6 separate regions of the Homo sapiens genome follow, and all the other regions are reported to be linked to region 4. Evidence: microRNA targets listed by miRTarBase, many of them from high-throughput screens and not tested one by one. Region 4 holds a microRNA gene; each other region holds the end of a gene's coding sequence.
What was found. The annotated mature microRNA hsa-miR-372-5p reads CCUCAAAUGUGGAGCACUAUUCU and lies in region 4 at 1,311-1,333, shown strand. An mRNA with a match to its seed (bases 2 to 7 or 8) in the 3' UTR can be bound and repressed. Matches are read on the target gene's strand: a 7mer-m8 pairs with bases 2 to 8, a 7mer-A1 pairs with bases 2 to 7 and ends in A, and an 8mer does both.

Region 1: miRTarBase lists RHD as a target of hsa-miR-372-5p. Seed matches in the 3' UTR shown: 7mer-A1 at 1,184-1,190.
Region 2: the mRNA of VWCE is a reported target of hsa-miR-372-5p. Seed matches in the 3' UTR shown: 7mer-A1 at 4,517-4,523.
Region 3: the mRNA of TLCD5 is a reported target of hsa-miR-372-5p. Seed matches in the 3' UTR shown: 7mer-A1 at 4,025-4,031, 7mer-m8 at 3,108-3,114 and 7mer-A1 at 2,357-2,363.
Region 5: miRTarBase lists CCSER2 as a target of hsa-miR-372-5p. Seed matches in the 3' UTR shown: 7mer-m8 at 4,466-4,472, 7mer-A1 at 3,590-3,596, 7mer-A1 at 3,461-3,467 and 8mer at 751-758.
Region 6: miRTarBase lists LRPAP1 as a target of hsa-miR-372-5p. Seed matches in the 3' UTR shown: 7mer-m8 at 2,625-2,631.

What each region holds. Positions count from the first base shown.
Region 1 is chr1:25,328,077-25,333,146 of GRCh38, forward strand. It overlaps RHD (Rh blood group D antigen), which reads left to right. Exons shown (of 10, transcript NM_016124.6): 10 at 822-2,369. The coding sequence ends at 848. It also overlaps a transcript of RSRP1 not described here. Among named protein-coding and RNA genes, the nearest start is that of TMEM50A, 7.7 kb to the right of the region's middle.
Region 2 is chr11:61,253,901-61,258,970 of GRCh38, forward strand. It overlaps VWCE (von Willebrand factor C and EGF domains), which reads right to left. Exons shown (of 20, transcript NM_152718.2): 20 at 4,386-5,070. The coding sequence ends at 4,775. Among named protein-coding and RNA genes, the nearest start is that of PGA5, 15 kb to the left of the region's middle.
Region 3 is chr11:120,329,839-120,334,910 of GRCh38, reverse strand. It overlaps TLCD5 (TLC domain containing 5), which reads right to left. Exons shown (of 3, transcript NM_001198671.2): 3 at 1,225-4,934. The coding sequence ends at 4,396. Among named protein-coding and RNA genes, the nearest start is that of ARHGEF12, 4.0 kb to the left of the region's middle.
Region 4 is chr19:53,786,585-53,791,656 of GRCh38, forward strand. MIR372 (microRNA 372) reads left to right here and starts at 1,306; the gene lies at 1,306-1,372. MIR371A (microRNA 371a) reads left to right here and starts at 1,091; the gene lies at 1,091-1,157. It overlaps MIR371B (microRNA 371b), which reads right to left and starts at 1,158; the gene lies at 1,093-1,158. It overlaps MIR373 (microRNA 373), which reads left to right and starts at 2,121; the gene lies at 2,121-2,189. It also overlaps LOC124904767.
Region 5 is chr10:84,513,854-84,518,923 of GRCh38, reverse strand. It overlaps CCSER2 (coiled-coil serine rich protein 2), which reads right to left. Exons shown (of 10, transcript NM_001284240.2): 10 at 407-5,070. The coding sequence ends at 4,657. Among named protein-coding and RNA genes, the nearest start is that of CCSER2, 190 kb to the right of the region's middle. RefSeq lists an enhancer at 4,342-4,511.
Region 6 is chr4:3,508,868-3,513,939 of GRCh38, reverse strand. It overlaps LRPAP1 (LDL receptor related protein associated protein 1), which reads left to right. Exons shown (of 8, transcript NM_002337.4): 8 at 904-5,072. The coding sequence ends at 966. Among named protein-coding and RNA genes, the nearest start is that of LRPAP1, 21 kb to the left of the region's middle. RefSeq lists an enhancer at 3,892-5,072.

The DNA of each region.
Region 1 (5,070 bases), not on the chromosome of region 4:
CCACATGCAGTGACGTTGTATGGTAGGCTGTGGTGTGGCACCACTTCAGAACTCAGCGCATGCACAGCTTGCAGAAGAGAAGGCCAGAGGAGACCTAAGAAGGCTCTTCGAACACTTGAAAGACCGGCATGTAGGCCGGGCGCAGTGACTCACGCCTGTAATCCCAGCAGTTTTGGAGGTCGAGGCGGGTGGATCACCTGAGTTTGGGAGTTTGATACCAGCCTGACCAACAAGGTGAAACCCCGTCTCTACTAAAAAATACAAACATTAGCTGGGCATGGTGGCGGGTGCCTGTAATCCCAGCTACTCCGGTGGTTGAGGCAGAATTGCTTGAACCCGGGAGGCAGAGGTTGCAGTGAGCTGAGATTGCATCACTGCACTCCAGCCTGAGACAAGAGCGAAACTCCATCTCAAACAAAACAAACAACCAACCAAACAAAACCAAAAAAAAAACTGGCATGTAGAAGAAAAATACTTTTTCTCTACACTTCTCCAAAGAATTTAACTAGGCCCAGGGGAGGTGCAGTATAAATTTCTAACAATCTCAACTGTCTGCCAAATGGAATGAGCTACTTCATATGGCAGTAGTGAGTCCTCTGTCTTTGGAGGCATTCAAATAAAAGCCAGATGGCCATTTATCAACAATCCATGTAAAACGTTAGATGAAATAAAACCTATATATCCAAGATCTCTTCCAATTCAGATTTTATGAAAGAATTTCTAAGGTCTTTGTAATGAGACATTTAGGCTGTTTCAAGAGATCAAGCCAAAATCAGTATGTGGGTTCATCTGCAATAAAAATGTTTGTTTTGCTTTTACAGTTTCCTCATTTGGCTGTTGGATTTTAAGCAAAAGCATCCAAGAAAAACAAGGCCTGTTCAAAAACAAGACAACTTCCTCTCACTGTTGCCTGCATTTGTACGTGAGAAACGCTCATGACAGCAAAGTCTCCAATGTTCGCGCAGGCACTGGAGTCAGAGAAAATGGAGTTGAATCCTTTCTCTGCCACTCTTTGAGGAGAATCTCACCATTTATTATGCACTGTAGAATACAACAATAAAATACAGCCATGTACCACATAACAACATCTTGGTAAACAACAGACTGCATATATGATGGTGGTCATCCAGTAAGCTAAGGTTAATTTATTATTATTCCTTGTTTTTTTTTTTTTTTTTTTTTTTTTGAGATGTAGTCTTACTCTGTCACCCAGGCTAGAGTGCAATGGCACCATCTTGGCTCACTGCAACCTCTACCTCCTGGGTTCAAGCAAATCTCCTGCCTCAGCCTCCAAAGTAGCTGGGATTACAGGCACCCACCACATCTGGCTAATTTTTTGTATTTTTAGTAAAGATGGGGTTTCACCATGTTGGCCAGGCTGATCTCAAACTCCTGACCTCAAGTGATCTGCCCGCCTCGGCCTCCCAAAGTGCTGGAACCACAGGCCTGAGCCACTGTGCCCAGCCTTGTTTGCTTTTTTAACAGATAACAGTGTGCTCATAGAAACTGCTTTGACATGACTGCAATCATGTGCTTCATAGAAACTTAATTAGATTATACCACTAGAGTCTTCAGATTTTTATACTTTTTTTTTTTGAAACGGAGTCTCACTCTGTCACCAGGCTGGAGTGCAGTGCCGCAATCTCGGCTCACTGCAACCTCCGCCTCCCAGGTTCAAGCAATTCTCCTGCCTCAGCCTCCCGAGTAGCTGGAATTACAAGTGCGCACTACCACACCCAGCTAATTTTTGCATTTTTACTTGACAGGGTTTCACCATGTTGGCTAGGATAGTTTCACCAGGATCTCTTGGCCTCATGATCAGCCTGCCTCGGCCTCCCAAAGTGCTGGGATTACAGGTGTGAGCCACCGTGCCCAGCCTATACTTCCCTTTTTGAATACCATTTGGTGTTTTGAAGAATTAACAGCTTTGTGAACGTGGCAGTGCTTGTGATTCAGGCTTCCATTGAGACCAAGGGGAGAACCTGGTTGCAGGACAAACAGACGGACAGCGTGTGGCAGTGTTTAAATGCTCTTCTGAAGGCTGATACGACAGCTCTCTGTGCACTGATTGCATATGCATCCCAAGATTATATTATTGTTTTCTACTGCTATGTGTCACACTTTGCCAAACAGGATGTGGAAAATGAATAAGCGGTTTTCTTAGGCACTTCTTAACAGACAATTGGTCAAAATGAACTCCATTGCTTAAGAAACACATAAACACCATTTAGTCACTGAACATAGCTATATGTATGGTTGTTACTATGGGAAATCTTGTTTTGCCAATTTTCTTTGAAAATTCTGGCAGACCAAGGTTCTTTTTGTTTACATAATACTTGAAAAATAAAAATGAACAAGCTAACAAACTACCAAGTTTTCACTTACATAAATGTAGTTGCATACAGAAAATGTGACTGTGAATTAATTTTTCTAGGACTTTTAAACTATAAGCACTATTTGCACAAAAGAGAACCAATCTATCAATTACAAACTCACATAATTTTACAGATTTTTTTTTTCCTACACAGCACATAAAACAGAAGGAATTTGAAGCCACCCTCCAAACACAGGGGAAGGAGGCTGTGTGTATATCCTCATTGTCTTTCACATTCTAAGGTGGTTCCACTCAGTGACTGAAATCCTTAAGCGTTGTATTAGTCTGCTTGGGCTACCATAACAGCAGCTTAAACTGTTGTTTAGCCACTCAGACTTAAACAACAGAAATTTATTTCCTTATAGTTCTGGAGGCTGGAAGTTCAAGGTGCCGGCAAGGTTGGTTTCTGGTGAGACCTCTCTCCCTGTCTTGCAGATGGCTGCCTCCTCCCTGTGTCCTCATAGAGCCTGTCTTCTGCTTTTACACTTCTGGTGTCATCTTCCTTTTTTTTTTTTTTTTTTTTTTTTTTTTGAGACAGAGTCTCGCTCTATCGCCCAGGCTGGAGTGCAGTGGCCCGATGGATCTCGGCTCACTGCAACCTCTGCCTCCCAGGTTCAAGCAATTCTCCTGCCTCAGCCTCCCAAGTAGCTGGGACTACAGGTGCCCACCATCATGCCTGGCTAATTTTTGTATTTTTAGTAGAGACAGGGTTTCACCATATTGGCCAGGCTGGTCTCGAACTCCTGACCTTGTCATCTGCCTGCCTCGGCCTCCCAAAGTGCTAGGATTACAGGCGTGAGCCACCGCACCCGGCCTCTTCCTCTTCTTATAAGGACACCAGTCCTATTAGATTAGGGCTCCACCCTCATAACCTCATTTGACCTTAACTATTATTTCTTTAAAGCACCTATTTCCAAATATAGTCACTTTAGGGGTTAGGGCTTCAAAAGATGAATCTGAGGGAGCTCAATTCAGTAAATAGCAGTAGTCATTAATGGACAATGTATACAAAGATAATTTCGTGATTACTGTCCTTATGCATAAACGTCCTCAGTGTTCCACTGCGTTTATCCAGATTTAGTATCACAAAGACTTTGCTCTGAGAAAAATGTGATTTTTTTTTTTTTTTTTTTTTGAGACAGAGTCTTGCTCTGTCACCCAGGATGGAGTGCAGTGGTGCAATCTCGGCTCACTGAAACCTCCGCCTCCCAGGTTCACGCCATTCTCCTGCCTCAATCTCCCGAGTAGCTGGGACTACAGGCGTCCGCCAAGATGCCCAGCTAATTTTTTTTTTTTTTTTTTTTTTTGAGACGGAGTCTCGCTCTGTTACCCAGGCTGGAGTGCAGTGGCGCGATCTCGGCTCACTGCAAGCTCCGCCTCCCGGGTTCACGCCATTCTCCTGCCTCAGCCTCCGGAGTAGCTGGGACTACAGGCGCCCGCCACTACGCCCGGCTAACTTTTTTGTATTTTTAGTAGAGACGGGGTTTCACCATGTTAGCCAGGATGGTCTCAATCTCCTGACCTCGTGATCCACCTGCCTCAGCCTCCCAAAGTGCTGGGATTACAGGCATGAGCCACCGCGCCCAGCAGATTTTTTTTTTTTTTTTTGAGATGGAGTCTTGCTCTGTTGCCCAACCTGGAGTGCAGTGTTATGATTTTGGCTCACTGCAACCTCTACCATGTTCAAGCGATTCTCCCACCTCTGCCTCCCGTGTAGCTGGGATCACAGGCACACGCCACCACACCTAGCTACTTTTTGTATTTTTAGTAGAAATGGGGTTTCACCATGTTGGCCAGGATGGTCCCGAACTCCTGACCTCAAGTGATCCTCCTGCCTCGGCCTTCCAAAGTGCTGGGATTACAGGTGTGAGCCACTGTGCCTGGCCAAAAATGTGATTTCTTATTTCCCACATTGCCAATTCCATTTCAATTAACTATAATAGCTATGTCTATTGAGCACTCAAGCGTATTCTAGAAACTGTTCCTGATTCTGGGGATATATCCATGAATGAACTATAGTCCCTGTTATTAAGTAATCCGTAGTCTGACTAAACCATTAGAAATTAAAAAAAAATGGCTACTTTCAAAGACATCTTGGAGTTCAGGAGTCCCACACTGCGAACCATATTACCTAATAATCCAACCTGCTTGTAATTCACTTATTTAACCAATATTTATTGAGTGCCAACTTTGAGCCTAAGATACAGCAGTAAACAAATGCATAAAGTCCCTGTCCCCATGAAACTTGTATTCTAATGGAAAAAACAGAAAACAAACAGATATAGGATGTAATATCAGGTAGGGATAAATACTTTGAATTCAAACAAAAGTATACGTAGTCAGGGTTCCCCAGAGAGACACAGCCAATCGATACATAGATATATAAGAGAGGGTTTATGAGTTAGAAAGGGCTCACATGATTACAGAGGCTGAGAAGTCCCACAACAGATTGTCTGCAAGCTGGAGACCCAGGGATACTGGTAGCATGGCTCAGTCCAAGTCCCAAAGTCTCAGAATCAGGAAAGCTGATGATATAATTCTTAGCCCAAAGGCCTTAGAACCCCAGCGGTGACGGAAAGGCTGGTGTAGGTCCTGGCGTCCTGAGACCCAACAGCCTGGGATCCTGAAATCCAAGGGCAGGAATGGAAGCGTGTATTCCAGCTCCAAGAGAGTAAGACCAATTTGCCTTTCTTCCG
Region 2 (5,070 bases), not on the chromosome of region 4:
TTTTTGTATTTTTAGTAGAGACGGGATTTCACCATGTTGGCCAGGCTGGTCTGGAACTCCTGACCTCATGATCCACCCACCTCGGCCTCCCAAAGTGCTGAGATTACAGATGTGAGCCACCACTCCCAGCCTCGGAAAGATCTTAAAAAGAGGGTAAGTTAAAAAAAAAAAAAAGTGAATTACAGCGATTTTGAGCCTCTGTAAGTTTGTCCTACTTAGAAACCTACCGTGACTTGCCTTCAGGCCATGCATCTAATAACCTTTAAAATCAGGTCTCTTGAAACAGGTCTGATCATTCTGCCCTTTGAGAAGCTGCCAGGTGCAAGGGAAACTGAGGCCACAGAATAAGCTTCCGACACACCCCCATTCTGTTCTGTTTCTCAGAACCCTAAAAGTGGAATCCTAGCTCAGGAAAAATGCAAGGTGTCTCCATCCAAGAACAAACACTCCCTTGCTTGTTGGAGCACAGGCTCCCGAGAATTCAGAGCAGCTTATCCCATTAAAGGCACTGCGCGCCCCGCTGGGGGCTTCAGGTGGACTCCTGCCTCCTGGTGCACTGCGGTTTACCGTGCACAGAACATGTGCTTACATGGCCCAGTGAGAGCCCTGACCCAGCCCTCCACCCATGGCTCCTGCACCTCTGCCCCAAGAGCCTTCTGGTGCCTGGGGACAAGCAGAAAGGCAGGCTCAGTACTATGGCAAGGCCAGCAGGGTGTGCTAGAGAGCCAAAAGCCCAGGACAAGGCTCGACCAGTGAGGGACGAAAGTTGAGGGACAACTACTGGTGCATCTTCACACCCTTGGGGGACAATCCTCAGGCAAGGCATGGGCTCCACAGTCTTCCAGAAGGTCCCTAGGACAAAGTGCCAATTGCCCATAGCTGCAACCGGCTCATCAATGCCCCTTGATTGGTCTTTTTCTCTTGGCTCTCACCCGAATACTATCTCTGGGTCTGCTTTAGGGGGAACCCAAACTAAAATAGTGTTCACAGGGCCCCTCCTAAACTGTGGGCCATCAGCTGTCTCTCCAAACACCAACAGGAGAACCTCATCAGGTGAAATGTGAAGCGAAGGAAAAACACCTGGACTGGGAGTCAGACGAATGAGGCTGTCTTCCCATTCAGCCGTCATAATCTGTGCAGCCTTAGAACACTCTCCTAACTTCTCTGAGCCTCTGCTTCTCAGCTGTAATATTGGGTGGGGAACAGTCCAGTTAAACATGTTTTTATACTCGGAAAAACTTGGGAAAAGTGTTTACAGCTGTCCCCCTGCCCCACCCCCAACCAATCTTTTTTTTTTTTTGAGATGGAGTCTCGCTCTGTCACCCAGGCTCTGAGTGCAGTGGTGCGATCTTGGTTCACTGCAACCTCTGCTTCCCAGGTTCAAGCGATTCTCCTGCCTCAGCCTCCTGAGTAGCTGGGACTATCGGCACATACCATCACGCTTGGCTAATTTTTGTATTTTTAGTAAAGATGGGGTTTCACCATATTGGTCATGCTGGTCTTGAATTCCTGACCTCGTGATCCGCCCACCTCAGCTTTCCAAAATGCTGGGATTACAGGCATGAGCCACCACACCCGGACTCCTTTTTTTTAAACATTCAAAATGAACATCATTGACATGAGTCCTATTTGCAGAGGCAGGTGGGGGGGACTAGTATTAAACTTAAATTGCATGCTAACTTATTGCATAAAGGAACAGCAATGAGGAAATTGGCACTAATTTTTAGCCACTACCATTTTGACAGATGGACTTGTTTGAAAAGTTGCAGCATGGGGGCAATGAGAATTCTACGCTTTTATCCTGAAATCAGACCCCACGTGGCATCACCAAGCCGGGTGGGCTGTAGCAAGTTTAGGGGCCACAGGGCCACAAGTGCAAACCACTGAGACTTATGGAGGCATTATCACACGTCATTGTCACAACTCCATAAAGTAGGCCTGTTATTATCCCCATTGTCCAAATAAGGGAGCAGAGGCCTGGCGCGGTGGTTCATGCTTGTAATCCCAGCACTTTGGGAGGCCGAGGCAGGCAGATCACCTGAGGTCAGTTTGAGACCAGCCTGGCCAACGTGGCGAAACCCCATCTCTACAAAAAATACAAAAACTAGCTGGGCATGGTGGCGTGTGCCTGTAATCCCAGCTACTCGGGAGGCTGAGGCAGGAGAATCGCTTGAACCTGGGAGGTGGAGGTTGCAGTGAGCCGAGATCATGTCACTGCACTCCAGGCTGGGTGACAAAGCAAGACTCTGTCTCAAAAAATAATAATAATAAGGGAGCAGAGACCTAATATCCCACAGCTAGTCCAGCTGAGCAAGGCTCCAACTTGAGATTCATTGGCTGCAGACCCCGCTCATGACCATGACCCTTTGTATCTTACTGGACAAAACGGCCTCTAAGTCCTTTGCCTCTCTAAACTGTTTGGTTTCCATGCTCCTATCTCCCACATTTATTATTCCTGCCACCAGCCGCAGGTTAGAGGCCAGGACTACACTGTCGTCTGGACTGGATACCAGGTTGCCTTTGCAGCCAGGAAACACTTCAGCAGACCCTTCGCCCTGGGACACAGAGTGAGTAGCAGGTCAGAGAAGGGCTCAGAAGAGGGCGGCCTCGGCAAAGCGATGGGCCATGCCCGGGGGTGCTTTCACTCCGCAGCCTCCATGGGTTTCAGTGGTAGCAAGTGTGGGGCTGCAGGCCCGTAATCCCAGTACTCAGGGAGGCTGAAGTGGGAGGATCGCTTGAGCCTAGGAGTTCAAGACCAGTCTGGGCAACACAGCGAGACCCTATTTCTACAAAATTTTTTTAAAAGTTAGACAGGCGTGGTGGCATGTGCCTCTAATCCCACCCACCCGGGAAGCTGGGGTGGGAGGAAGGCTTGAGCCCATGAGGTTGAGGCTGCAATGAGCCGTGATCATGCCACTACACTCCAGCCTGGATGACAGGGCAACATCCTGTCTCAAAAAAAAAAAAATGGTAGCAAGTGGTGACTTGGTGACAGAGCAGCTTCTGCTTTCCAGCCCCACATCACTTCCCTTATCACAAATCCGCATCCCCCCATTCATGACGGCACTGTCCTCTTTCCGTCTCTCATGCACACTGTGCTACACTGCCCAGATCCCCCCACTAGGACTGAAGGATCAGTCTCCCAGCTGCTGGGAAGGTGGTTGATAGCAGCTCTCTGGTCAATATGAGGCAGAAAGCCCTGCCCCGTAGCTCCAGCTCAGGACAGCTCCGAAGGGCCAGCCTAACCCCAGAGCTCCCAGAGGGGGCTGGCTGAGGCTTCGAGAAGGCCCAGCAGCCCCAACTCTCCCTCCCTGCTCCTTCCCCGCTGCCCACAGGTGTTCCTGCTGAAAACACGTCTTAAGAAACTGCTGGCCCGGCCCGGCGCGGTGGCTCAGGCCTGTCATCCCAGCACTCTGGGAGCCCAAGGTGGGCAGATCACCTGAGGTCAGGAGTTCGAGACCAGCCTAGCCAACATGGTGAAACCCCAACTCTACTAAAAATACAAAAAATTAGTCAGGTGTGGTGGCGGGCACCTGTAATCCCAGATACTCAGGAGGCTGAGGCAGGAGAGCCGCTTGAACCCAGGAGGCAGAGGTTGCAGTGAGCCAAGACCTTGCCATTGCACTCTAGCCTGGGCAACAAGAGCGAAACTCCATCTCAAAAAAGAAACTGCTGGTCTGTCATTTCGTCTCAGAGGTTCCTTCCCAGAAGCAAGTCCTCTCCATCATCTTTTCCCTTCTCACTGTGGAAGCCCCCCAGTGTCTGTATGGTATTCCATGGTGTACATACTATGCAGCCATAAAAAAGAATGAGATAATGTCCTTTGCAGGAACATGAATGGAGCTGGAGGCCATCATCCTTAGCAAAGTTACGCAGGAAGAGAAAACCAAATACCGCATGTTCTCATTTGTAAGTGGGAGCTAAATGATGAGAACACATGGACACATAGACACGAAAAGCACACACTGGGGTCTATGGAAGGGTGGAGGGAGGGTAGAGGGAGAGACTTAGGAAAAATAACTAATGGGTACTAAGCTTAATCCCTGGGTGATGAAATAATATAATCTGTATGACAAACCCCTGTGACACGAGTTTAACTATATAATAAACCTGCACATGTACCCCTGAACTTAAAATAAAAGTGAAAAAAAGAAAAAAGAAAACAGAAAAGAAAATCATGATCTTGGGGAAAAAAATAAAAAGAAGTCTCCCAATATAAAAGGCCGCCAAGTGCTTACAGGAGACCCTTCCCCAGCCCAGTCACAATTTGGTGCCAGCTTTTCTCCCCAGCAGTGGGGTAAAGGTGGATGCTCACTTACCACCTGTGGGCTTGGGGTCACGTTTCCCACCTTCCCACAGGTAAGCGGTGAATGAGCAGTGCAGCATGGGGAAACCGAGACAACCTTTAATCAGGAAACCTCAGAGAGACGCATGACACCTGGCGGTACAGTCCCAGTGAGTGGAATCCCAGCCGGACGCAACTCTTCCTCCAGGAGAACTTGGCAGTCCCAACCCTTCTCAAAAGATGAGCCAGCCACGCGGTCCAGGGAGGATGCTGACAGTGGAAACGACTTCCTCCATTCTTACAGCACATTCCAAACACTTCTTGGGAACAAGGTTACATCCAGCCTTGGGGGTCTTCCATCCTCACCAGGGCCCCTGCAGGAGGGAGCCCAGGCATCCCCACCAGGTTCATCCTTGGAGCTGCCCTGCACACACCCTGGGCCACTGGCAGAGGTCCTCTCTCCAGAGTCTCCCGGACACAGTGACCTCCTTACATGGTGGACTCTTCCCCCCGAGAAGCCCCCACTGGGGGCTGCTGGGGGCCAGGGTGGGTGGTGGCTGCAAGGGCTGTGGAGAGTCTAGAGGTGGTGGGAGAAAGCACGCGAGGCCCGAGGAGGGTGATGGGGGTCTTCGAGGGGCTGGGGTCCATCATGGAAAGTGCTGAAGCTTCCGTCAGGAGGGTGCCAGGCAGAGGAGGCCACCTGGACACTATCTGGGCCCCAGAGGCTGAGAACGAGCGCTCTGGAGTCACAGGAGGTGGCTGAGGAGCCCCTGGGGAAGCTAGAG
Region 3 (5,072 bases), not on the chromosome of region 4:
TCCCATTCATATATATATATATATATATATATATATATATATATATACACACACACACACATATACACATATACACACATATATACATATATACACATATATATACATATATATACACATATATATACACACATATATACATATATATACTGACCAAAATGCAAACCTTATCCCCAAACTTAATAAATCTTTCTTAAAAGTACTAAATATCTTATTTTCCCCTATCCTAATAATGTTACAGTGTAAGTATAAAATTAATTGAACCCAATGACTCATCAAATCATGCATTTTGGAGTTCCTCTCTTCCCTTAATACTTGAGGGAAGCCTCAATACTTAAGCTTCAGGAATAAAACAAACTGGGAAAGTTTCCTAATTCACCTTCTCTTCCTTGCATACAAAACCTCTTGGCAAGCTGCTTTCAAGATCTTTCCAAACTTAAACAGACCCACGGTTCTAGCTGTGAGCAAAGAAGGCATTTTGCTGTGGGAAAGCTTCAGAAGATGGTAAGCAAAAGATTGAATTAAGCCAGTGGTTATTCATTCCAGAACTAATTTTTTTAAATGATGAAAATCTCTATAGTCACCTACAAAGCATTAATGATTTAAAAAAAAAAAAAACTGAAAGCCTCTTTAAAGCTGCCGATAGCTCAACTGTTCTAAAGGCTGTAACTATAGGATGCCTTCAGAAAGTCAAGCCAGTCTGGGTAGAACACACTCCTCAGGGTCCGTAGTACTTTACTTAGAAAAATGACATTGATGACCCAATCCACTGGGAAAACCTTTGAGGAGGTTTTCCAATGGGGATGATTCTAAACCACATTCTCATCCTCTTGTCCATTCTTTCAACATGCTTACTAAGTATCTACTATGCATCCCAGACTGTTTTAGGCATTGGTAGTACAGTCCTCAAGACAGGGCCTCCAGCTGTCTTCAGATGATGTCTCTGATGTCAACTCACTTGACATCAACATTTTCAAGACAAGTGTCCAAACAGGTGGCAGAACAAGAAACACATTAAGGTTCTTCCTCTCTCTTTTGGCAAACTGTTTTGTGTATGTCAACTGTTACCCCCCAAAATAAAAAAAAATAGGGGGAATGATGGATAATGAACAGCAGATTAGAGATATTCACTAGTAAGTATGAATACAGGTCAACATTTCTACAGGTCAAAAGGCTTTTTTTAACTTCTTGGCAAAACCACCACATAAATATAAAGACAGACTCTGGGTTTATAAAAAGTTGTTTTACTTTTATAAAATTTAGTACAAATCTTATGGAAATATAAATCGTTCTTGAACAGTGTTCGTTATCATTACACAGTAATCCAGTGCAAATGAGTACTTCATTTTGTCCAAGTATACCACACATTAATTAGCCCTTCATTTACCTGTGGTTTCAGAACTTAGCATTGTCTTAACTGCTGAGTCATCTTCAGTTCACATTGTTCTCTCAGAAGTTTTTTCATAGTTATTAGTAACAACATCAAGAAAAGCTGAAATGAGGGATTCCCTTCCCCTTACCAATTATTCAGATTTCTCACCATTCAAAAAAACCTACATACAGTTCCATGAAAGTGTCCCCAAAACAACAAGATCTGCAGTCCCTTCACTTCTGAGGAGTAAGAGAGAAAAAGAATTGGTACCAGATTAAGCCTGTTCATTTGTCTGGTATGGAACAGGTTGCACTGTGCCAAAATTCAAGAGCCAGCTTTTTTTCTTTTTTTTAAGCTCATGTGCCAGGCCACTCTTTTCTACAAGCTTTTGCTAAAATCAGCATTCCCCAGCATCCTACTTTGACCGCAATTTTGTTGGAAAGAAGCTTACCAGCATTTTAGGGGCGCTCATCATAGAAAAAAAAAAAGTGGAGATTAAGAAAAAAAACAGGAAGTGGAGATGCTGTCAGATTATCTCAATGCCCAGCAAAACTCTTTAACCAAATGACATTCATTTTTAAAGACCCACTGTTAACATGCATTTAAAGTTACTGTTTCCCTAACAGTGATGACTTTATACCATTCCAACCACTCCCTCATACCTGGTTTCTGTGGCCAAGACCATTTTTCATTTTCAAGACCGCTCATGGCTGGGCACGGTGGCTCACACCTGTAATCCCAGCACTTTGGGAGGCCGAGGCGGGTGGGTCATGAAGTCAGGAGTTCAAGACCAGCCTGGCCAACATGGTGAAACCCCGTCTCTACTAAAAATACAAAAAGTAGCCAGGCATGGTGGCACACGCCTGTAGTCCCAGCTACTCGGGAGGCTGAGGCAGGAGAATCACTTGAACACAGAAGGCGGAGGTTGCAGTGAGTTGAGATCACACCACTGCACTCCAGCCTGGGCGACAGAGCAAGACTCTGTCTCAAACAACAACAACAACAACAACAACAACAAAAGACACCATTCATTACGTTAGATTACCAGTGGCCATGGAATGGACTGATGCTTCCTACTGACCAGCCTTGACTCCAGTAGCACCATATGCTTGCTCACCCACTGAGCTAATCAAACACCATTGACTTCAATAACATGGTAAAAATAAATAATCAATAAATACATAAATACTTCATATTTCCATAAAAGCCCTACATTAAAGACCTCCATTAATAAAATGCCACATAATGTATTTATGAAATATACTACAGGGTATTTCATTCATTCACAATAGGTTTAAACTCAGGCAAAGAAGAAACAAGTAACCTATCCAAAGTGAGTGAGTAGCTCTCCAAAGTGGCAAGTGAGTAGCAAAATTAGTTAAAAGAACCCAGGAATTCTGGATTCTTAACCCCTTGTTCTAAGCTTATATTCTTGCTTCTCTTGGAGACTGTCACACTAAGAATTATTATTTTTTTCCTTCCAAGACTGGCCTTGTTTTATTAGTTTGTTCATAGAGTGGTACCTTTTTAGTAAAAATAAGAAAAGTAGGAGGAGTACTAAAAGGGAAAGTATCTAAAATGAAAAAAAAAAATTAACCTCATCCCCCTGAGGCCAGTACACACTTTAAAGTCTTTGGCTCTAGTTTGCAATATGTACAGCAGAGCTGAAATCTAAACTGCCATCTCAAGCACAGTGGAATCCACATGATAAATCCCTATGGAATTTAGTCATAGCCTCAAATGCCTAGGAGATTAATGCACAAAAGCCCTGAGAACTGGCATAGTTTTCCTGGTAGGGCAGAACCCATATAACAGGACTCAGTAAATCTACCCACACTTCATTCATCTCAGATCCAAAGCCCTAACTCTATAGGTTTTGTGCAGAAAAGAGTTAACATAGCAGGCCTAAACTGCTATCCTTGGAGAGGCCTGATTACAGGGTTGGCCACTGGCCGGCATTTGGGAACTTAGATTTTGGAGGGGCTCCCACAATTAACTGATAAGACTGGCTTACTGTGTCTGAACTGCTTGTGCAAACAATATGGCTTATGCTGAACACCTGCTTTCCTTTTGAGAGTCTTGAATTTTGCTATCTGCCAGGGAAAGCCTGCCTAGATGACCTGTCCTCAGTAAAAACTTTGGGCACTGAGTCTGTAGTGACCTTGTCCAGTAGACAACTCATTCACATGTCGTAACAAATCACTGCTAGGGGAATTAAGTGCATCCTGTGTGATTCCATTGGGAGAGGACTCTGGAAACTTGTGCTTGCTTTACCCTAGACTTTGTCTCAGGTGCCTTTTCCTTTTACCGATTTTTCTTTGTATCTTTTCACTATAATAAATCAAAACTATAAGTAAGACTATATGCTGAGTCCACTGAGTCTTCCCAGAGAATTACAGAACCTGGCAGTGGTCTTGGGCACCTCTGGCACAGTTGGTATAGGAGGTTCAGTAAGTAGCCCTCCCCCTCACTGCCAGTTTCACTCTCACCCTCCTATGCCCCTCTGTTTAAGCGACCCAATTCCCCGATCTAATGTTCAGAATGTCAAAGGCGTGTCTCTTCCTGTAAGCCCCTCACTTTATAGTAAATGGGGTAAACTTAGATAAATTGCTATATGGAAAGCAGAAATAAGTGTTTATTGAAAGAGTTACTTCTCAAAGGAACAAGAAATAGCACTAATCTTTTTCGAGTTCCTTTCTAAACTGCCTGAACATCAAACCTCCCAGGGACAGGAGGACCCAGGGTCACCACAAATGAAAACAAATGCCAGTTGTACTCACTTCACAGTTCTCACTTATTCCCAACTACCATGGAGTATTCTCACTTTCTACAACTGTGCTACTGTAGAAGTTAGTGTTTTAATACTGGTATATGCTCGGCTTGAAGACTGACCAAATTGATCAATACATTTAGCCCTTTATTGAAACCTAAGTTTGTTATAAGTGTAATTATGTAACAGTCATATTTCCAACCTGGTTCCCATGGCTGACTTAACCCAATCCATAATCTGGAGCAAGCCTTGGCTAGTGTATTTTGAGATGTCCGTTGTGTTTCAGCTGCCGTTCCTCACTCCGCCTGCTTCTCCAAGCATGGTACTTCTTGATGCTCTTCCTCCATGCAAAGCGCCAGATGCTAAACATGAAACACCAAGACACAGCATACATCGCTACTCCCCCAGCCTTCACAAACCACTTAGGCGTGGGGGAGACCATTTCACAGAAAAGGAGGCAAGCTCCCACACCAATCCTCACTCCTGTGAACAGAGCCACAAAGAGGAAGTCCACTACATCTCCAGTGAAACTGTGATAGTGCCCTGTTTCCCGGAGAAACCAGCGCATCTGTAGCAAGGGGTTGGTAAGCTCACTTCCAAAGAGGACTGCATTGACCTCTGTGCCAGACTCCCCAAGCACAAGGGCCATGATAATGCCCAAGATACTCAATGTGTGATGAGCCAGCATCAAGGCACCCTCAGACTGAAAGTAGACGCACCAGCCCAAGTCGAAGATGAAGTAGCCCAAGGTGAGACACAGGACATGAACTTGGAGAGGTGTATTGGGTGAGCCTGAAACAAACCAAGACAGAAGCAAATTGAGTGACTGGGAATTGTGTTACCTTGCACAGGGATCCTATGTTGTTGTCTTTCAAACCTTACTAGACACTAAAGAAACAAAAACAATAGCAGGCACATGCTTTTTAATGA
Region 4 (5,072 bases):
CTCAAGTGATCGTCCGCCTCGGCCTCCCAAAGTGCTGGGATTACAGGTGTGAGCCACTGCGCTCTGCCAAAATACTATATTTAAATATTTGTTGAGTGGATGACTGGTGGAATGATTTTCTTCTGGTTATTTCTCTGTGTTTTCCAATGTATTTATAACGAATACATGTTGGCGTTACTAGTAATAGGGATCACCTAATTTCTATTTGAATCAGTGTTTGAAAAAGTTTATGAAGGTGTGTCTGACTAAGGCAAGCTAGGATCAAAGGGAGCAGGGTGGCTTGGGGCGGAGACCAGGGGGAATGAGAGGGTGGGAAGGGGTGGGCTTTAATCCTATCAAAGTTGAGTGGGCTCTCACCCTATATAAGAACGCAGCTGCAGTGAACCTTGTTCTTTCTGGCAGACCTGAGGTGTGGACGTATCATTGGCCTCTGTGAGTATTGCTATGTTATTTTATTTTCTTTCATTTTACTTTATTTTTTAGGGTCAGGATCTCACTGTCGCCCAGGATGAAGTGCACAGGTAGGATGATGGCGCCTTGCAGCCTCGACCTCCTGGGACTCACCCTTTTAGCCTCCAGTAGCTGGGACCACAGGCGCGCACCACCATTCCCATGTGCGTTTTTCTGCTTTTTTTTTTTTTTTTTTAGGAGAGATGGGGTTTTCTATGTTATCCAAGCTGGTCTCGAACTCCTGGGCTCAAGAGCAATCCTACCACCGTAGCCTTCCGAGTAGCTGGGACTACAGGCTTGAGCCACTCCGCCCAGCCGGGCTGTACTTTTGTTCTATTTCTGTGATTTTTTTTCAGTCTTAAGGACGAAGGCCCCACTGTCCCTCACACGTGTTCCTTCCTACTTGCATTGTACTCAGTCCTCATGGCTTGCATCTGGAGGCTATGGGCGGGGGAGTGCTTTGAATATCTATACGTGGAAAGCCTTGTTTTTTACTTTTTAAGAAAGGGTCGTTAAATTCGTGCTTTGTAGACCTTCAACAGCTCATCAAGGGCTACTCTCCACCTCCTTGCTTAAAAGCCTCTTCTGATGGGTAAGTGCTTCCACTTGCGATCGCCGCCTTGCCGCATCCCCTCAGCCTGTGGCACTCAAACTGTGGGGGCACTTTCTGCTCTCTGGTGAAAGTGCCGCCATCTTTTGAGTGTTACCGCTTGAGAAGACTCAACCTGCGGAGAAGATACCATTTTGATTGGGTGAGGGGGCGGGTAGCAGGATGGCCCTAGACCCTGCCTATGGCCGTTTCCTCGTGATATAAATTTCTTGGCCGGGGCTCTTGCAGATGGAGCTGCTCACCCTGTGGGCCTCAAATGTGGAGCACTATTCTGATGTCCAAGTGGAAAGTGCTGCGACATTTGAGCGTCACCGGTGACGCCCATATCAACGGATGCCGTGGAGCTCGGTCTTCTGCAGGAACTAAAGAGCCTGTGGTTTCGATTCCCAGCCGGAAACTGTCTTGGGTACAGGTCCCTTACAGCGTCTGGCTGTAATGGCTCCGGAAAACCTGGGGAAGGGAAGGGGGCCTCCTGGGCTCTCACCTGACACAACTAAGGGAATCTGGGTTAGATGGTGAAAGGAAGAGAAGGTTCAGAGGGCGGCTGTGCGCCTGCGCCGGGCGCGGCGGCTCACACCTGTAATCCCAGCACGTTGGGAGGCCGAGGCAGGCGGATCACGAGGTCAGGAGATCGAGACCATCCTGGCTAACACGGTGAAACCCCGTCTCTACTAAAAATACAAAAAATGAGCCGGGCGTGGTGGCGGGCGCCTGTAGTCCCAGCTACTTGGGAGGCTGAGGCAGGAGAATGGCGTGAACCCGGGAGGCGGAGTTTGCAGTGAGCCGAGATCGCGCCACCGCACTCCAGCCTGGGCGACAGAGCAAGACTCATTCTCAAAGAAAAAAAAAAAAAAAAACAGCAGCTGTGACCAAGGGGCTGTATGCACAAAGAAAGGAATGCTTTTTGCTGTTGGTGTTATAATTGATATGTAACTTTCCTCTTCCCCCATAGCAAGCAAGTTTATTGCTGACATTTAACATGTGCTTGGATGATTGGAGGCCAACCTCTTGTAGGCAAGAAAGTCACAGTGATGGCAGATCCTCGCGAGGAGCTCATACTGGGATACTCAAAATGGGGGCGCTTTCCTTTTTGTCTGTACTGGGAAGTGCTTCGATTTTGGGGTGTCCCTGTTTGAGTAGGGCATCACGAACCATCCTGCTTCAAGGGAGCCTGCGGGTCTGACTGCAGCTTCAGCTATGACCTGGAGTTCCCGGGCTTCTCTGCGGGGCACCAGTCTGTATGCTCCATTTTAGATAATAAAAATTGGCATATTCTGGGGTGGGCAGGATACGGGGTTCACCTGCAGATGAACAGGGCAGGAAAAGCTTGATGGGGTGTCGGGGGAATCTGGTTGGCCTTAAAGGGAATTTGGGGTCCTGTTCCTGAATTTGGTAGGCAGCATGCATGTAAGGCTTGAAGTGGGTTTGGCCAGAGCATGGGCTGGAGTGCTTCCACCCTGCTACACGGACAATGCCACAGTCTCACTTTTCCTAACTTTTTTTTTTAATAAAATGTGAACAACATCATGTGTTTCTGGTCTATTGGGTTCCTCTGCCACCCACAAGTGCTGGGATTACAGGCATGAGCCTCATGTCTGGCGTTACTGAACCTTCTTCTATGACCCAAGTACATTGCCTAAAAATACTTGTCAGTATTTTGTGCTTCCCTTCTACCCCTGCTAGAACTTAGAGTTATGCTCTTTGAGAGTTCTGCTCTTTAAACTTCAAACAAGTTTAAAAAGTAAGGCCGGGCACAGTGGCAGCACTGCCGAGGCCGACGCAGGCTGATCATGAGGTCAGATCAAGACCATCCTGGCTCACACGGTGAAACCACATCTCTACTAAAAAATACAAAAACATTAGCCGGGCATGGCGGTGGGTGCCTGTAGTCACAGGCTGAGGCAGAAAGGGCATGAACCCGGGAGGTGGAGCTTGCAGCCAGCCGAGGTTGTGCCACTGCACTCCAGCCTGGGTGACAGCGATAACTGTCTCAAAAAATAAAAACCACCCAGGCTGAAGTGTGGTGGCACCATCACAGCTCCCTGCAGGCCTGAGCTCCCTAGATCAAAAGATCTTCCCATATAAGCCCCCCCTCACCCCACCCTTAGTAGCTGGCACCACAGGAGTGTCCCCGCCATGCTCCACTAATGTTTAGTAGAAATTGGGGTCTCATACATTGGCCAGCTTGGTCTGAAACTTAGGGGGAATCAAACATCCCTCCTTTAGTAGAGATGGGGCTTTACTGTCTTGCCCTGGGTGGCCTCCCTGGGATGATGGGTGTGAGCCACAGTGCCAGGCCTAAGTTCATATTTGGAAGGTTTTTTTGCTTCAGATGGTCTCGTGCTCTCGCTCAGGTTGGAGCGCAATGGCGCAATCTTGGTTCACTGCAACCTCTGCCAGCTTAAGCGATTCTCCTGCCCCCGCCTCCCAAGTAGCTGGGATTACAGGCATAAGCCACCACGCCTGGCTAATTTTTTGCATTTTTTAGAGATGGGATTTCTCCACGTTGGCCAGGCTGCTCTGGAACTCCTGACCCCAGGTGATCCACCCACCTCGGCCTCCCAAAGTGCTGGGATTATAGGCGTGAGCCACCACGTGGGGCCTTCAGTAGGTTCTTAGTTGCTGTTTGCCCTATCACTGGTTTCCGGGTCTGCTGGCCACTATCCCCTGTAAGTTTTCCTATCCCCTGTAGGTGTTCCAAACCCTTGCGGCTGCTTTGCCCACTCCACAGTATCTGAACTGAAGTAAGATCTCAAATTCAAGGGAGTTTTGTTTTGCTATTTGTACCCGCAATTCATAAAGCAGTTGTAGCCTCTGTCCCAATACCGCCACCACTGGTGGGGAGTCCGCCACGGTAACCAGTAAGACTTCTCTTTATATTTGACCTACCTGGGCCTCCTGTCATCTTTTCTACGGGCAGCTTGGGGATTGTTAGTTGAGGGTTTTTTGTTTTTGTGTTTTTTTTTTTGTTTTTTTTTTTTTTTAAAGAGATGGAGTCTCGCTCTGTCGCCAGACTGGAGTACAATGGCATGATCTTGGCTCACTGCAACTTCCACCTCCCAGGTTCAAGCGATTCTTTTGCCTCAGCCTCCCGAGTAGCTGGTATTATAGGCACCCACCACCATGCCCAGCTAATTTTTTTTGGATTTTTAGTACAGATGGCGTTTCCCCATGTTGGCCGGGCTGGTCTCACTAAACTCCTGACCTCAAGTGATCCACCCACCTTGGCCTCCCAAAATTCTGAGATTACAGGTTTGAGCCACTGCGCCCAGCCTTTAGTTGAGTTTCTTAAGCTTGTTTAGGGTTTAGCCTGTATGGCCAGCAGGGTGTAGGTGGGGGTGGTTTGTAAGCAGGGCTGTTTGCTTCAGAAGCAGCTGTGGAAACAGGACTGAATGCAGACATATAAAGAATATTGGGTAAATAACTTTTTAAAAAATTTAGAGATAGGATCCCACTATGTTGCCCAATCTGGTCTTGAAACCTAAACAATCTCTTATCCCAAAGTGCTGGGATTGCAGAAAGCTTAAGGCACAGTTTTACGTGGTAATGGTGGGCCATTTTTAGTTTCTTTTTTGTAGACGATCATGTCATCTAGGCTGGAATGTAGCGGTTCTGTCGAGCTAGGTGTAGCCTCCACTTCCTGGACTCAAGCATTTTTCCTCAGCTTCAGTAGCTGGGTCTATGCATGAATACCCCTTCTGGGGTAGATAGATAGTAGTACATAGAGTAGATAATTTTTTTGTGTTCAGGCGGCACCTTAAGGTTGGTGTAAAAATTCTTGGCCTTCTAAAGAGCTGGAATTAGACATGAGCTGTTGCACCTGGCCAATGGGACAATTATGTCTACAGGACTGAATCAGTATCTGATCTCTGGAGTTGTAAGGTCACTTTTTCTGAAACTGCCTCAGTCTCCTTGCAGGTTCTGGTCTGTAGATCTCCAGTGTGTGGGCTGAGCACAGCATGGGGACCTGATTTCCCACCGGGCAGTGACATAGTTTAAAGATTCTTAGTTC
Region 5 (5,070 bases), not on the chromosome of region 4:
TTGCCTCAAGCTATTTTGTATACTGCTTAAAAACAATGACAAAATAATTAAAATTACAAGTGTTTTCTTCCTTGTACAGCATTCTAAATCCAAGGTGCTAATGTTTCTTGAAATGTCCATTAACCATTATCCCAATATTCTAAGATAAAGCAGGTATTTTATTACAATGGAAACGAAAGTACTAGATCTCTTACAGAATTTGTGAAGACACAACAACAAAATACTGATCAACTCCTACTCAATCAGGGCTTGGGGTGTCAAGATGTGTGTGAAGGCAGCATGTAAAATAAAGTATCAGAGTTGGGAAAAACATAAGCAAATGAACAGTATCTTAGATCTTTGTGGGAAAAAAGATATCAAAGAAAAAGCAAACTATGGGAGTCAATGTTGAGAAAGACAAGAGAACTTTTATAATTATGAACTTTATTTTTATTTACTATGCCAACATTTTCAGGAGAGACTTTACATCTGCTTTTTAGAATTCATTTTACAGGCAAATTCTAATATACAGTTTGTACTCTAAACTGACTTAAAATCAATGGGAAAAACAATACTGCAGATATTATTTTTGCTCTTTGTTAGTAATGACTTAGAGACCTTACATTCTCGGGTATTATTTTGTTAAGTAAACGCTTTACCAAGGAGAAAGTGGGTAAGCTTATTCCCAACAAGATTAAAACATGTATCTTCAGTTAATGACATAGTTGTAGATTGGTGCCCACCATCAGAATCATTTAATCAAAAGTACTCTCTCAAATTGCTGCAGCAAAAACTTAAAGGGAGATGTGAAAAATCACTAGAAAATAGAATTCAAGCATCAGAATTTAAAAAGGAACAAGGCCATCATCCCCAAGGAAAAACATCGGGTAGTACAGCTATAATTAATTTTCAAATGTGTGCTTAAGCATGCAAACATAACCACCCAAACGAATTTAAAAACACAAAAACTACTGGGTAAGATGGAAAGTAAATTGAAATGGTGCTGCAGCCTTATTGATCTTAATTGCAAGCCTGTTCGGTGATTTCAAAGTACATCCCCAGTGCCCTAGAGACCAGGAAACCAGTATGACAACTCTGCTCAGAAACCAAGAGTGCACCTCAGTGTCTGTAACACCATTTATGCTACAGGAACATTTGGAAGTGACAGCTGTAGGGGGATCACGCTCTCTCTGATGTACTGAGAAAAAAGTAAAATACTTATCGGAACAATGGAACATTCAAAGAAAACTTAGTGCTTTAATGGAAAAGTGACATGCTGGGAATATATTTCTGTGAACAGCTGTACTGATATCTTCAAACAGCAACAATTACAAATTTATTTCAACAAAGCCACACCCAATAGGAGGCAATTCGATATTTCAGGCACAACTTCAAGCAATTAAGCTCATTTAAAGTGCAAATCTGATATTTTCTTTCATATTCAGATTTTTACTTGTTAAAGTACTTAGTAAATTCTAATATATATATAAATACAATGAACAGTAGCCTATATGCCTGAAAATATTGCACAAATAAAAATGAGACTCCAAAAGAAAAATGTTAGATGGTCTCAGTTATTAGAAACAGTCTAAATGACATAACTCTATAATCCTTTAATGCCTTAAAATCATCTGCACCTGTACCAATAAACTCCTTAGGCCAAGCCTTCTTTTAAAAATTTGATATGCATCCCATTAACAGCCAAATATCAAAGTCTGAATACTCTACTAATTTCCTCTTTCACGAATGTGAAACTTAACAAACCCCATAAAATTTCTTCCTCAGGACTTAGAATTCATATACTGTAACTATCTTCATTGATACCACTAGAACTAAGACAATAAATGGTTTGTGGAGGAGGATTTGGCACAGAGTTGATTTACATTAATAGAAGCAATAAACACAGATCAAGCCAAATCTAAGATGATCTTTGATTATTCAGTAGAGTTACATCCTCACTTCCATTTCAGACTTAACATTTACTAAGAAGCAGACAAGCATGATATTCTTGCAGTTTTTAATGAAAACTGCAGGCAAATACTTTATGTCATGCAAGCATCCTAGATTTGTTTTCTTTTAATATATTATGCTTCATAAATATACGATAAGCCTATCTTCTAAAAGATTAAGACTCAACAAAGGTAGAGAAAAGTTGAGCTAATTGGTTAACATTTCTGCAAATCCATCAGGGAAGGAAAAAATAGAGAAAAATGGAGTAAATACATGGAGGAAAAAATAGAGAAAAATAAATTACTGGAGTCAACATTTTTATGTAATGGACAATAAAGACATTTCCCTCAGACTAGGGAATTAAAAATAAATTTAAAAATTTAGAACTTTTCCCTTAAGGATAAGGCCAACTCGTAAATAATGTTTCATAAGGGTCTAAACCAACTTCTAAATAAACCAAAAACCACTAAGTCACTGGTTTTACTTTAGGGGAATATAGTATGATTCACATATTTGCAACATGTGAGAACGGTTTTCTTTCTCCTTCAAAATGATAGAACATGTATGCCCACTTACAACTGCAGCCATCATGGGTCATCTCCATAACAAAGTGCTTTGCTGATTTGCCTGACTCTAACAGTATCTGGACTATGTGAAGAACGTTCTGAACTTCACTGCTTCTCCATCAGAAGTGCTGGTACATAAGAGTATGGTACAAGATTTGTCTTGCTCACCTCTTACCAAATCCAAGAATGGTTTCTATCCAGTGAATGGCAAATTCATCTGATAGGTAAGGGAATAATGGGTCAAAATGGTAGCAAACACTTCTTTCAAATTTCTACTAAAAGACTTGCTGTTGTTTTTCTTATAAAGGGGCAATTTCATCAACATACATCTTTTAAAGGAATCTCTAGAAATTTGAGTGACTTTTTGGCCATAATCCTGTTTGATATATTTTTGGTCAGCTGCTCAAAACAAACATTCTCCTTGTAAGGTTATCTATCTGAAAGATACTAATTCATTTAAAGCAGCTGCAGGTGAACAACCTAAAGATGACATGATTTGGGAGAAGAGGAAGGCAGATTTACTGAACTGACAAGTGACCCAAAGCATAATTAGGTTTGTGCACATGGTAGCATGGAGGTTCCACACCTACCTTCTACAGCGTATTAAAATAAGAATATTGTCTTTGAAACATCTTCTAGCACCTTTTTAATAAAACAAAATTTCCCATCTTCAATTCTATTTTTTTCCCAAATCTACCTTTAAAAAATTGTCTTTCAAAAATACACCATAGACGAGGTGGGTGGATCACTTGAGGTCAGGAGTTCGAGACCAGCCTGACCAACAAGGTGAAATCTCATCTCTACTAAAAATACAAAAAAATTAGCCAGGCATGGTGGCACATGCCTGTAGTCCCAGCTACTCAGGAGGCTGAGGCAGGAGAATCGCTTGAACCCGGGAGGCAGAAGTTGCAGTGAGCCGAGATTGCGCCACTGTAATCCAGCCTGGGCAATGGAGCAAGACTCTGTCTCAAAAAACAAACAGAAAAAAACAAAAAACACAGAAAAGGGAAACCTAGGAGACTGGAGATGGGGGAGGGGGAGAATATTATGAACTCCAGCTTTCTCAAGATAGTCTTATTTAAATTTGTTATTTTTCTCAAAATATTTTAACTTGTTTTGCTATAGAAAATAGTTTACAATCCCTATATATGGTATATTTATACCCCATCAAAGTTTTGTGCAAATGTTTCAAGTTCATTATTTCAGTCTTCAGATATTAGCAGAAAATCAATAAATATAAATATTACAATTAAAGACATAATGCTGTGGAACCTTAAAATGGCTATCATGGATCCACAAGCCTAAGGGTTCAAGCCTGAATTACCAGCAAAACTCTAGCACCAACATATGTTACAAATGAATACATCTTTAGGTACAGGTTTCAAGGTGTATCTCAAGCGCTCCAAAATTTACCCAGTAACAAATACAAACATAAATGGTATGTGTGTGTATATGTGTGTGTGCATGCACATGTGTTTGTAAAACAAGATGTAAAGGAATATATAACTGATTTATATGTAATAAGAAACACTTTCAGTCTGGGGAATTTGGGAAATGAATCAACAGTAACATTAGCTGACTGACCCTGGCAAGGAAAAATAAAACTTACATAGACTTTCCATTAAAAGCCTAATCTCCTTTATTCATCACAAAGCTTTTGCATAGACCTTTTAAATATACAAAACACTGGCCAGAACTCTGCTTACAGACTACCATCTTCCATTATCACCATATCTTTAGTTAAAATAGTAGCCATATTCACAGGAGAGACAAGTGAAAAGGGGTGAGGTTCTGACAACCACAATAAATACAGACCTTAATAGGACTAAACCAGCAAAGCACACTTCTTGCCTGCTCAGTAAAATATTATGAATTTTCTGACGTGGAGAGGGATGGATAACATGATTTGGGCCTTTGGCAGGCCTCTGAAATGGGTAAGCAAACTTTCGTGTTTACCTGAGATAATTATGCTCAAATGGCATGTACTTCAACCAGGATATAAAATGAAGGAGCCAAACTAGTAGAAGCTTCCACATTTTAATTTAAGATTTGCAGGCTTTCAATGGAACCTCCACCACAGTAGCAAGCTGCAAGCTGCACATAAAGCTATTACAGAAGAGATTGTTTTTAAGAAACAAATTGGCAGGTGATGGCTATGTACTTAATGTATCTTTGGTTTAGGAAGACGAGAATATCGATTAGAGGCCAAACAATCCCCAGAATGCAAATTGCCATTTGGATTCTGCATGATTTCTTTTCGTTGTGTTAGTGGCCTTGGGATGCTTGTCTTGGCCTGGAAGCTTTGAGGCTCTAGTTGGGGGCTGTTTGTTTGTTTTTGTTTGAAAGAGCCTGAGGGGGGGCGGAGCTTAGATGCTTTCAGATTCTGATTATTTGCAAGATTTGTTTGACTAGATGTTGGCTGAAGTTTTGCTGAATTACATGTTGTGATTATTGGTGACTTTTTACAAGTGGGAGTCCTACTTGGAGATGATTCAGAAACTGGAGGCGGTACCAAAGAACTCAATATGGATGGCTTTAAAAGCTGCAAGGACTTGGGCTGAGACATATAACCCAC
Region 6 (5,072 bases), not on the chromosome of region 4:
GCACCGTTGGGGCAGAGGTCAGGGCCGCTGAGAGAAGGGACCTTCGGTGAGTTATTCACCCTGAGCCACGGGCTTCTATGTGGAGAGGGAGGTGGCGCCCACGAGCAGGGTTTTGTGAGAATCTGGGGAGAGCTACAGTGACCCCAGCCCAGGCTGGGCTGACGCAGCACCTGCTGCCACTGGGGTGGTATCTGTGGGGATGCTCTGGGCTGTTGTGATGTGAGGAGCTGGAGGTCCCTCTCCTTCCCTCCCAGGCCCTGAGGAGGAAGGCGCCTTTCCCAGAGCTCTGTCCCAGTCTCTCTGGTCATTGCTTTTAAAAATAACACTGTGGGGCTGGGCACAGTGGCTTACACCTGTAATCCCAGCACTTTGGGAGGCTGAGGTGGGTGGATCATCTGAGCTCAGGAGTTCGAGACCAGCCTGGGCAACATGGTAGAACCCCATCTCTACCAAAAGTAGAAAAAATTAGCCGGGCGTGGCGGTGGGCACCTGTAGTCCTAAGTACATGGGAGGCTGAGGTGGGAGGATCACTTGAGCCTGGGAGGCAGAGGTTGCAGTGAGCTGAGATCATGCCACTGCACTCCAGCCTGGGTGACAGAGCGAGACCCTTTCAGTAAGTAAATAAATAACACCATGGGCCTATCACAGAGACCCTGAGCTTTCCACTTCAGCATGAACTGCTCCTGGCTGGTGGCTCTTAGCGTTCTTTGGTGGGATTTTCTAGTTAGTACTGAGCTGCTTTTGTGATTTGAGCATTTCTGGATGGGTGTGGAATTGGAAAGTCAGATGTGCAGGGCTTGCGCCTTTTCCTTTTGGATCGCGCGTCTCCTGACATGAGGCTGAGCTCACAGAGCTGGCCTCGAGGCGCGCTGTCCCCAGCTGATGAGACGTTTCTGTCCACAGGTGAAGAAGCATCTGCAGGACCTGTCCGGCAGGATCTCCAGAGCTCGGCACAACGAACTCTGAAGGCATTGGGGAGCCCAGCCCGGCAGGGAAGAGGCCAGCGTGAAGGACCTGGGCTCTTGGCCGTGGCATTTCCGTGGACAGCCCGCCGTCAGGGTGGCTGGGGCTGGCACGGGTGTCGAGGCAGGAAGGATTGTTTCTGGTGACTGCAGCCGCTGCCGTCGCGACACAGGGCTTGGTGGTGGTAGCATTTGGGTCTGAGATCGGCCCAGCTCTGACTGAAGGGGCTTGGCTTCCACTCAGCATCAGCGTGGCAGTCACCACCCCAGTGAGGACCTCGATGTCCAGCTGCTGTCAGGTCTGATAGTCCTCTGCTAAAACAACACGATTTACATAAAAAATCTTACACATCTGCCACCGGAAATACCATGCACAGAGTCCTTAAAAAATAGAGTGCAGTATTTAAACCACCCGCTTGTTGGCTGGTCACTAAGTGTCCTGGTGGCTGGGGCCGGAGCCAGTGCTCTTGAAGGGATCGCGTCATAGCCAGCTTCCCCTCTGGGCCCTGTGGGTCTTTGCAGCCAACCTCCTTTTCCCGTGAGACGGCCCGGCCTGATTTAAAGCCAAGAGCGCTTGAGTTGAGTTTGAGGGGAAGATGTGGAGCGTGTGGTTCTGTGGACAGTCAGAGACTGTGGCCTGGGGGCAGCGTCTTTCAACTCTCACCTCTGCAGCTCAGGGACCTCGGGAGACCTCACCAAACCTGCAGGGCCTCCGTGTCCCTAAGTGTGCTGTGTAAATGCCCCATCTCATGGGGGAGAGACAGCCACGGAGGCCTTCCTCTGACCATAGCTGATGGACTGGCGGTTGCTCAGGTCCGGCTCCGAGAATGTTCCTGTGTCTGAGCCTGGAAGAGGCTCGGGTCTGGCTCCAGGCGTGGTTCCCTTCCCGTGTCTGAGCCTGGAAGAGGCTCGGGTCCGGCTCCGAGCGTGGTTCCCTTCCCGTGTCTGAGCCTGGAAGAGGCTCGGGTCCGGCTCCGAGCGTGGTTCCCTTCCCGTGTCTGAGCCTGGAAGAGGCTCGGGTCCGGCTCCGAGCGTGGTTCCCTTCCCGTGTCTGAGCCTGGAAGAGGCTCGGGTCCGGCTCCGAGCGTGGTTCCCTTCCCGTGTCTGAGCCTGGAAGAGGCTCGGGTCCGGCTCTGGGCGTGGTTCCCTTCCCGTGTCTGAGCCTGGAAGAGGCTCGGGTCCGGCTCTGGGCGTGGTTCCCGTGTCTGAGCCTGGAAGAGGCTCGGGTCCGGGTCCAGCTCCGAGCGTGGTTCCCGTGTTTGAACCTGGAAGAGGCTCCACCAGGCGTATTGTGTTTTGACTGCAGCTGGATCTTGGCTTGACTGTTGAGATCTGCCAAACATCCGCTAAGCTATCATTTCTGAGAAAGGTCAAGGCTAGAGGCAGCATGTCGGGAGTTGGCGCATCAGGGTTGGAAGGGCCCCAGGGTACAGCATGTGGGTGCCTGTTCCTTTGTGGACTTGTGTGTGTGTGGCTGGTGGGGCGGGGGGTGGATTCTGGTTCTTTTTTTTCCCATTATCCTGAGAGCCTTAAGGTACTCAGTGTGTTGGTGAGACTCAGCCCTGTCATCTAGCAGAAGTGTGTTCCTTTTCATTGCTGTATAGTATTCCATTGCATGACTGTCCTGTGCTCTGATTTTAATGCACTTTATTGTGGGTGGATATTTGAGTTGCTTCCTTTCTGGGGTAATAACACTCACTTGGAAATAGCTGTGGTGAACACTCGTGTGGGGGTGGGGGTGGGGGCCAACTCTAGGAGCACCTAATGGATCTTACGAAGCGTGTTGTCCAAGTATAGAGATGATTCCAAAGTGGTTGGACTGTGTTTCTTTCTCCCAGCTGGGTGGAAGGAGAACACTAGTGGATTGCTGAGACTTGGTGCTCGGTATTTTTAATTATGGACAGCCTGGCTGGCGTTTTGTGGTGTCTAATTGCGGAGTAGCGTGTCTTACTGTATAATGGCCTCTTTTGTATGTGGGAGACCATGGTGTTGAGGGGAGGCAGTTACACAAAAAACCCAGATACCGAGTGTTAGTTCCATGGGTGTGGCTGGTCATGGTGCGCACTCACGAAGGATGTAGGTGATGCCCTCCACTCCGCAGAGCCAGTCCCACAGGGGTACCCATTCTGACTCCTACCACCGCAGCTCCCTACCTCCCGCCTGCCATGGGTTCCACGTGCATGGCTCTGGGCAGTCTGTGTCTTTGCGTGCGTCTGTGTATGTCTGCGTGTATCTGCTTACATTCGCTCAGCATCTGAGATTCACCCAGGCTTTTGCGTGGATCAGCGGCAGACTCCTGATTGCCGCGTGGCGGCCTGTTGTGTGGGTGTGTGCCGCGTGTGTATCCAGTCCCTACTCAGGAGTGTACGTTTCCAGTGTGGGTTGCAGTCAGGATCCATTTCTCCCTTAACTTTCAGATTATTTGCTGCATAGGCTTTTTTCTCCTAATTTGGCGCCTTTGTCAGAAATCAACTGACCTACCTGTGTGGGTCTGTTTCTGTTTGTCCTTACGCTCTTGCCATTGCCACACTTTAGACAAGGTCTTGCTCTGTCCCTCAGGCTGGAGTGCAGTAGCGTGATCTCAGCTCACTGCACCCTTGACCTCCCATACTCCAGCAATCCCCTCGCCTCAGTCTCCTGAGTAGTAGCTGCGACCACAGGCGTGTGTCACCACACCCGGCTGATTTTATTTTTTTTATTTTTATTTTTTTTGTAGAGACGGGGTTTTACTATGTTGCCCAGGCAGGTCTTGATCTGGGCTCAAGTGATGCTCCTGTCTCAGCCTCCCAAACTACTGGGATTACAGGTTGTAGGTGTGAGCCATGGTGCCCGGCCGCCACACTGTCTTGGCTACAGTTGGGTTTATAATAAACCCTGAATCGAGGTGATGTGCATTTTCCAACTCTTCTTTTTAAAGATTCTTGTGGCTGTTTATGTCCTTGGTGTTTCCATATATGTTTTACAATCAGTGTCTCAATTTCTACCAAAAAAACATGCCTTCTGGAATTTCAATAGCAATTCCCTTGAACGCATTTTTGAATACCTTTTCTGAATGTCTTGAATACATGTTGGGAAGAATCGGTGTCTTAACAGTCTCCAGTGTCCACGCGTTGACTGCCGTGTGTGACTCCAGTCGGCGTCTCAACAGTCTCCAGTGTCCACGCGTTGACTGCCGTGTGTGACTCCAGTCGGCGTCTCAGCAGTCTCCAGTGTCCACGCGTTGACTGCCGTGTGTGACTCCAGTCGGCGTCTCAGCAGTCTCCAGTGTCCACGCGTTGACTGCCGTGTGTGACTCCAGTCGGCGTCTCAGCAGTCTCCGGTGTCCACGCGTTGACTGCCGTGTGTGACTCCAGTCGGCGTCTCAACAGTCTCCGGTGTCCACGCGTTGACTGCCGTGTGTGACTCCAGTCGGCGTCTCAACAGTCTCCGGTGTCCACGCGTTGACTGCCGTGTGTGACTCCAGTCGGCGTCTCAACAGTCTCCGGTGTCCACGCGTTGACTGCCGTGTGTGACTCCAGTCGGCGTCTCAACAGTCTCCGGTGTCCACGCGTTGACTGCCGTGTGTGACTCCAGTCGGCGTCTCAACAGTCTCCGGTGTCCACGCGTTGACTGCCGTGTGTGACTCCAGTCGGCGTCTCAACAGTCTCCGGTGTCCACGCGTTGACTGCCGTGTGTGACTCCAGTCGGCGTCTCAACAGTCTCCGGTGTCCACGCGTTGACTGCCGTGTGTGACTCCAGTCGGCGTCTCAACAGTCTCCGGTGTCCATGCGTTGACTGCCATGTATGACTCCAGGTATTGAGTTCATCTTCAACTTCTCCCAACAATGAACTGGAGTTTTCTGTGCATGTGTCTGGCATGTTTTCCTTTAGATCTAGTCCTAGGTGTTCGATATGCTATTGAGGACTGTGTATTTTTATTTCATTTGTCACCTGTGCGTGGTGCTTTAATCCTGTGCCCTAAACTCCCGCCTTGGCCATGGCGGTGTTTCTGTGGACTCGTGGGGTTTCCGTGTGCACACGCGTGTCCTCTGTCTGACAGTGGCTTTGCTTCCCCTTGTCAGTCTGTGCCTCGGCTTCTCACTGCACTGGTGAGGTGAGCCGGCGCTCGCT